Linked DNA regions of Homo sapiens: regions 1 and 3 are each linked to region 2. The links come from fine-mapping of genetic effects on gene expression. A gene starts in region 2. Each other region holds a variant in brackets. All regions are shown on one strand. Distances are between the middles of the regions.

Region 1 (2,769 bases), 340 kb before region 2:
CCCCGTGAATGGCAAGTACTATAAATGTAAGGTCCTATAATTGTTTGGGAAATTAATAATCTGTATTTTCTAAGGCTTTTTTGTGCCTCTAAGAGAGAGGGTCTTGCTGTGTTGCCCAGGCTGGAGTACAGTACTGTGATCATAGCTCACTGCAACCTCGAACTCTTGGGCTCAAGGAATCCTCCCACCTCACCATCCTGAGTAGCGGGTACTACAGGCATGCAGCACCATCCTCAGCTAATTTGTTAAAATGCTTTGTAGAGGTGGGGGTCTTGCTATATTGCCCCACATGGTCCCACATTTGTGGTCTCAAGTGATCCTCCCACCTTGGCCTCCCAAAGCACTGGGATTACAGGCGTGAGCCACTGTGCCCAGCCGGTTGTGCCTTTTAAAATAGTAGTAAACATGATATATTGAGATTGGAAGCCTGCATCTTTCTTCAAGATGCTCACTGCCACTAGGAACCTTCCTCTCAACATAAAGGTTCAAAAAGAAGCAGTAACTAAGATAGTCTTTCATGGATCTTATGAGCTTTCATTTCATGAGTCTACACATAGTTTGGTGCCAGTTTGTTAAAATTGTCCATAGAAGAGATGAATAAGCACTGGATATATCATGAAGAGAATAGAGATGTGACGTACTGGTCTGCTCAAGCTTCCGTAACAAAATGCCATAGACTGGGTGGCTTAAATAATAGACATGATTTTCTCACAGTTCTAGAGACCAGAAGTCACAGATCAAGGTCTGGCAGGGTCGGTTGGTTTCTGGTGACAGTTCTCTTCCTGGCTTGCAGATGGCTGTTTTCTTGCTGAGGCGAGGCAGACAGCAGGGGAGCAATGCAGGAGAGCAAAGCCCTCTGGTGTCTCTTCTTATAAGGATGCTAATGCGGCAGGATCAGGGCTACACCCTGATGACCTCGTTTAACCTTAATTACTTCCTTAGAGGCCCTAGCTCCAATAGTCACATAGGGGATTACAGCGTCAACATTTGAATTTTGGGGGACACAAACATTTAGCCCATAACATCTGGTTTCCTGTCCCAAATGGGACAGTTTAAGCTCCCTGTCCCAAACTTAGTAACTATATCATCAATTTCCTATTGTAAATACTCCAATTCCTCACCTGTAAAATGGGGTAATAATCAATCTTAAAAGGAAATGTTGTGAGAATTAAAGGAGATAATGTATATTAAAGTATTTTTATAAACTGTGAAGTGTTATTTTAGTGGAAGGAGTTAATTTCCAGGCTTTTCTTAATTATTCAAACAAAGTAATAAATGTTTTTGCCGTATTTCTTTTAGGAAAAAAAGATGTTTACATGTTAGTATATCCATAAGATAATTTCTTTCTATGGGGAGGTCTTTACAAGCATTCTGTTTTCATTTCTAAATTTATAAAGGCAAATATACAGCTGGGCACGGTGGCTCACGCCTGTAATCCCTGCACTTTGGGAGGCCGAGGTGGGTGGATTGCCTGAGGTCAGGAGATCGAGAC[C/G]GGCCTGAACAGCATGAAGAAACCCTGTCTCTACTAAAAATACAAAAAAATTAGCCAGGCATGGTGGCAGGCGCCTGTAATCCCAGGTGCTTGGGAGGCTGAGGCAGGAGAGTCACTTGAACCAGGGAAGTGGAGGTTGCAGTGAGCCGAGATGGCACCACTGCACTCCAGCCTGGGCGACAGAATAATACTCCGTCTCAAAAAAAGAAAAAAAGGCAAAGAAACACCTAATTATGTTTCCAAAATATCTATTAATATCATTTATTTAAAGTATTTGCTTAAGACAAATCGCTGGCATAAAAGATGGAAAAATGTACATTATTACAGAAATAATTCCCTGTGTATGCAGAGTGTATTGACTAAAATTTGCTTCAACTCTGTGTACTGAACTCATACTTTTAAATACTGATTTTGCAGTCTCTGCATTTAAAGCAACACACTAGAAAATCATGCTCCCACCAAAAACATGTAAAAATGTAAAGATGAAGAAAACAACTTTATGTTTTATGGCATTTACTTCAAAAATCTGATTAAGATAGATGTCTTTAGCTCATAATTCTTCAATGTCATGTTGTCATAGTTCCCATCAGCAAGATGTTTTAAAGGCTTTCGATTAATATTGCATGCCAGAACTGAAATTACATCCTTTGTCGTTTAGCTCTTAATGGTGCAAGTGATATCTATCAAGTACTGTTTTATGAAGTGTGTGTGATTTTTATTGCAGGCTGTTTTCACAAATCTTTTTCAGGTTTCAGAAAGGCGGCTTAGGGTTTAAAACAAATAAGCCCTTCTGTTGAAAATCTTGATGATTCTTAAAACTGCAGTAAAACTTATATTACTATTTATCAATAAAAAATCATCTATTTGGAATCTGTTGCATTCACATTTGCACACTGTCTTGAATATATTTGCTTTAACCCATATTTTAGTAAAACACAGTATTATAATTTATGCAAAATAAGTGCCAAAGACACATAGCTCACAAAGCTTTCATTAGCAAGCATGTACATTATCTGCCTAGTAAGGAAAATATATCTGTAGAAAACACATGCTAACAATTAAATGATAACTGGGTTTGTATTGCCAAAATGTATATTTTATTTTTAAAATATAATTACTAATTTACTTTTAAGAGGAATCTAGTGTTCTGACATTAATTTTAAAAACTTCAAAAATTAAACACTTCAAATACAAGTCATTTTCATATATCAAAGATCTAGAATTAAAAATAGAATCTTACTTATATAAAAATTAGGGAGATATAAATGAAAAGAAGA
Region 2 (2,769 bases):
TGTCCATCAGTTTAGGAGCCAGGCTAAAGCTGAGGCATCTTAAAATTTCGGAATGGGAAGGAAAAATAACATTAGCTACCCTGGAGGCTGTGGAAATAAATGCATCTGAATGCAAAGGACAGTGACTTGCAGGCTGCCTGAGATCCAATAAAAGCCTCATCAGAAGTAGCTGTCAATCACTCTAACATGTATGGCTGGTTCCAATAATTCTACCAGTCAAGATAATAAAATTTCAGAACACTAAATCAGCTCACAGCAAACCAGTTAAAAATATTTTGTGATCGCCGTGACCACCATGGTGGTCTAATACCCTGGGTTATATGTTTTAATAGAAAACACAAATGAGGCCGGGCGCGGTGGCTCACGCCTGTAATCCCAGCACTTTGGGAGGCCGAGGCGGGCGGATCACGAGGTCAGGAGATCGAGACCATCCCGGCTAAAATGGTGAAACCCCGTCTCTACTAAAAATACAAAAAATTAGCCGGGCGTGGTGGCGGGCGCCTGTAGTCCCAGCTACTCGGGAGGCTGAGGCAGGAGAATGGCGTGAACCCGGGAGGCGGAGCTTGCAGTGAGCCGAGGTCACGCCACTGCACTCCAGCCTGGGCGACAGAGCGAGATTCCGTCTCAAAAAAAAAAAAAAAAAAAAAAAAAGAAAACACAAATGATTCCATTCTTGGAAGAGTCTATCAGTTAGCACTTTGAGAAGACAGTCAGCCCTGAGTGCCCTGCCTCTCTTTCATTTCCTTTCCTAAGTACTGGAACCTCAGTCACAAAAGAAAACCAATATTTAAGTCAACAGACATACATTTAAAATTATTTCGCTGATGTGACTATGAATTTTACTTATAAAACAAGGACGTGCTGAATAGTTCACAGTATTTTTGGTGTGTTCATTTCAAGCATCTTGAACTGCTCTTTTCCTCAGCTTCCGTGTCCCAACACTGCCCAGATTTGCCCTCTCCATCTTCAACTACTTTTTTCCAGTCTCCTTTTTAGACTTGTCTGCCCTCCCCAGTTTCCAATACCTCGATACTCTCTTCTCATCTTCTCCTCCTTTTCTTCTAGGCTGTCTCATCCGTGCCCTCAATTCCCACCTCTCTACAGATGACTCAGCAACTTACCTTTAGTTTATCCTTAGTTCAGACTTCTCCTCCAAGCTCCAGACCCATCTAAAAGCCTTCATGGCCAGGTGCGATGGCTCATGCCTGTAATCACAGCACTTTGAGAGGCCGAGGTGGGCGGATCACTTGAGGTCAGGAAATCATGACCAGCCTGGCCAACATGGTGAAACCCCGCCTCTACTAAAAATACAAAAATTATCTGGGCGTGGTGGTGCATGCCTGTAATCCCAGCTACTCAGGAGGCTGAGGCAGGGGAATTGCTTGAACCCGGGAGGTGGAAGTCTCAATGCGCCAAGATCACCCAACTGCACTCCAGCCTGAGCGACAAGAGCGAAACTCTGTCTCAAATAAATAAATAAATAAAAGCCTATGTGACATTTACCCTTAAGACATTCTAAACACATCTCCAATACATCTAAAGTTGAATTCATTGTAGCCTCTCTACCACATAGTCGCCCTGGAATGCTTCTAATCTCAGTGAATGACATCACCGCCCAATTATGCAAGTCAGAAACCTAGTGATTATCTTGCTTACCTCTCTCTTAGCCTCCGCTTCTAATACATTATCAACTCTTGTCAATTTTATTTCCATCTCTGATAAGCACTACCCACATACAGGCTACCATCATCTCTCATCTGAACCACCACGGTAGGAAGATCTAGGGTACAGTTCAGAGAAAGCAATCAGGCAGGAAAACCAGTAAGTTTTATTGTTTGAGACAGGGCCTCAGTCTGTCACCCAGGCTGGAGTGCACTGGCGCAATCTCAGCTCAATGCAACCTCGACTTCCCAGGCTCAGGTGATTCTCCCACCTCAGTCTCCCAGGTAGCTGGAACCACAGGCAAGTGCCACCACATCGGGTTAATTTTTGTATTTTTTGTAGAGACGGGTTTTCACCATGTTGCCCAGGCTGGTCTCAAACTCCTGGGCTCAAGCAATTCACCCACCTCAGCCTCCCAAAGGGCTGGGGTTATAAGCATGAGCCACCGTGCTGGGCCACCAAGAAGTTTTAAGAAGGCAAATTGACTGGATTAAGAAAATGTGGCACATATACACCATGGAATACTATGCAGTCATAAAAAAGGATGAGTTCATGTCCTTTGTAGGGATGTGGATGAAGCTGGAAACCATCATTCTCAGCAAACTATTGCAAGGAAAAAAAAACAAACACCGCATGTTCTCACTCATAGGTGGGAACTGAACAATGAGAACACTTGGACACAGGAAGGGGAACATTACACACCGGGGCCTGTCATGGGGTGGGGGAAGTGGGGAGGGATAGCATTAGGAGATATACCTAATGTAAATGACGAGTTATTGGGTGCAGCACACCAACATGGCACATGTATATATATGTAACAAACCTGCACCTTGTGCACATGTATATATATGTAACAAACCTGCACCTTGTGCACATGTACCCTAGAACTTAAAGTAAAATAAAAAAAAAAAAAGAGAGAGGAAAAAAAAAAAGAAGGCAAATTGGTGGAAAAGGCATGTGGCTGACAGTGGAGAAAACAGATGAGAGCAAAACTGAAAAGGGTCCACTGGCTTCAGGAATAAAGAGGTTATTTGTGACCACGGAGAGTCATTTCAGTGGAGAAGCGTTTTTAAAAGAACGGTCAAGCCTTGTGCATTTTACCTGTCT
Region 3 (2,769 bases), 310 kb before region 2:
GGTAGAGAGACATCTAGGTAAAAGTGTTTCTGAGGCACATAAAGGGTACCTGAGGGACAGAACCACACCAGAAGTGATTCTGAATCTCAGCTGGGCTGGTGACAGTGCAGCAGCTGGAGGCTGGGGGAGAGAGCACAGATGAGAATCTGTGGGATGCAGAAAGGGAGACTGTGTGGTCTGAACTTCAACTCCAAAATGTTGTACCCTGTGGCTTCTATTTAAGCATCACTGGCTAGAGACTATATGTAGATTCAATCAACAGAGCAAGGGCCAAATTCATCAATAAAAAAGACCATTAGCACATGGATTGATAGGATCTTGCTTAGGGTTCCGTAGAAATGAGGGCTCATCTGTTAGCTCAAATAAGGCCCCTGTCCTTTTTTAAAATGAAACAAGTATTTGAAAATGTTAAGAGCTGAGCCCTGGTTTATTTGAACAAAATGTGAAAAATAAGCACAATTGTAGAAATTCAAGTACATCACAGTTTACTTACAGACAATTACGATTCTAATGAAGCTCAGAGTACTTAGTTCACACACACGAGTGATCTGAGTTGGACAGGAACAATAAATAGGGTCCCAGTTAACAAATGCACTAACCATTAATATCCTTTTGAAAGCCGCAGTTTGCTCTGACCCTATGAACAGGATTGGTTTATAAACAGGTAATAATTAGATACAATGTTGAATAGAAAAAGTCATTTAATTTTGATTTTACATGAGATTTTATAATTTTGTTTTAAAGTTCTCCGAAAAAAGCTCCACAAAAAAACAAATACAGAACCTAGGACAATCTTGTAGAAGAAGAAAATGTCTGGTAACCATATTTAGCAACTGGTTTTCAGTACACATTAGATGTATGATTTTAAAAACTGGCTGCAGGAATGAATGAACTCTTGATTAGATGAATACTGCCTCTAGGGTAACCTAATGCACATCCCTCTTGCCTTCCCTTGCCTGTCTTCTAGGGAATCCACAATGTGTATGCACATTTTACCTAGTTCAGCCTGAGTCAGGCTATTGAGATGTTTTTGTATGCTTTTCTCTGCCTATTCTTTATATAGTAACATGGGGTTGATATGCCAGCACTTCAGTCTACGTAGGAGTGGGTCATCGTCATTTCAGTGTTTGCTTTATAATGCAACGTGGGTGCCCTCTTAAGATTTCCCAAATGAATTCAACAAAGTGCTGGCTACAGGGGAGTGGGAAGGGGAAGACACTTGTAAATTGGTCACTTTAAGCTTCACTATGTAAGTAAAACTTATAAGAGATAAGCTACCATTCTCTAAATATAAAGTTTTAAATAATTCTTTAGAAAAGAAAAATTTTATTTTTTAAATAGGACAATTCCTCTTTATGAATTCTCATGACCAAATGATTTCACTAATTACTTTGTTGTATTCAATTTTGGGATAGTTCGCATAGTTGAGTTTGTAATGCAATAAACTATGCCTGAATGGTCTGTTTACTCCACTGCAAGTTACAAGCAAAATGCTTTCTCCTGAAAGGACTTGTCTCTGAAATGCACAAAGTGGCAAAAAGCCAAGGGAAGCTAGCTGGTGCTTAAGCAACCAAGAATGAGCAGTGCCTGTGTGCATTGCAATCTCAGCCAACCGAAGTAAATGTTATTGGAGTTTTTGTGCTGTAAAATTGCTGCTTTCATGCCCACTGCATCTGACAA[C/T]AGGAATCCTTGGTCTACTAGGAAGGTGGGAGGTTGTTGTGCCTTCTAGCCAGATTCCTACATTCCTAAGAAAAGGGCTGGGAAGTGGGGTAAAACTTCTATTGTTCCTAATGGGCTAGGGACAATGAGACTCAAGTTGGTGGCATATTTGGTCAGAGAAAGAGACTAAACAACAAAAAAAGTACTAATATTACTTCCTGCATTAAGCATTAGGACCTGGGAAGTTATTCTTTTAGAGAAACTCTTCAGTGTTTGTAGAATAAAAAAAGTAATTCCAGAGGCCTCAGGACCTGGGAAGTTATTCTTTTAGAGAAACTCTTAAGTGTTCGTAGAAAAAAAAAAAGTAATTCCAGAGAGTAGTGGATTAATGACTTAAGTTTTTAATTTTCAGGAAATTTAAAAAAGCATATTTTACAAATCATAAAATCAAGATCAATAAATACATTATTGCATTTTGAAGGGCAACAATTTAAAACCCATATAAATGCATTTAAGTTAATATGTGCACTTGGTTTTCTTGATGTACTGAGTCTTTCTTGACATGGTATTTATTTGTAAGGCTGTTTAGTTAATAGCACATTCATTCAGTGCTCACTTACTGAGCACCTACTTGAACCAGGCCAAAATTTCATCACCAATGCTGTAGTTTTAAATGTACTTTAGGTCCCAAATCAATGTTTAAGCCCCAAACCATACAAATAATCTTTTTGTTTAAATATATTGAAAAAAAATTTTAAAGCATCCACTGCTACTTCTAGGCAACTATTTTTTTTCACAATTATACTAACATAATGTCTACCATATAAGCATAATATTTTAAGTAAGACTTACATAGTATTACAGTTCATGGAGGAGCAAGATTCAAACTATATTTCTTGATTTTAAAAAACCCAAACCTCTATGATAGTTGTCACTGGTGGCAACACACAGTTAAATTTATGCCTGATATTAAAAAAAAATGTACTGAACAATACAGAATGATTTGGACTCGCTTGCCTCCTTCAGTCATAGACTAATTCTATTAGAATGGTTTTTATGTTAATTATGTCCTTACTTTCCTAAATATACATTTTCAGCATGCACTCACAT

The links. PIP is the estimated chance that this variant, and not a neighbour inherited with it, causes the effect. A credible set is the group of variants that fine-mapping cannot tell apart.
Region 1: its variant is the best candidate, but not a certain one, in a credible set for the expression of TENM3 in thyroid (GTEx, PIP 0.57).
Region 3: its variant is the best candidate, but not a certain one, in a credible set for the expression of TENM3 in thyroid (GTEx, PIP 0.81).

The regions. Positions count from the first base shown.
Region 1 is chr4:182,583,580-182,586,348 of GRCh38, reverse strand. The region is part of intron 3 of TENM3 (teneurin transmembrane protein 3); the gene reads right to left. Among named protein-coding and RNA genes, the nearest start is that of DCTD, 330 kb to the left of the region's middle. RefSeq lists an enhancer at 582-1,138. The variant C/G (reference allele first, on the strand shown) is at 1,493.
Region 2 is chr4:182,241,829-182,244,597 of GRCh38, reverse strand. It overlaps TENM3 (teneurin transmembrane protein 3), which reads right to left and starts at 1,196. Exons shown (of 28, transcript NM_001080477.4): 1 at 1,122-1,196.
Region 3 is chr4:182,555,088-182,557,856 of GRCh38, reverse strand. The region is part of intron 3 of TENM3 (teneurin transmembrane protein 3); the gene reads right to left. Among named protein-coding and RNA genes, the nearest start is that of TENM3, 310 kb to the right of the region's middle. The variant C/T (reference allele first, on the strand shown) is at 1,681.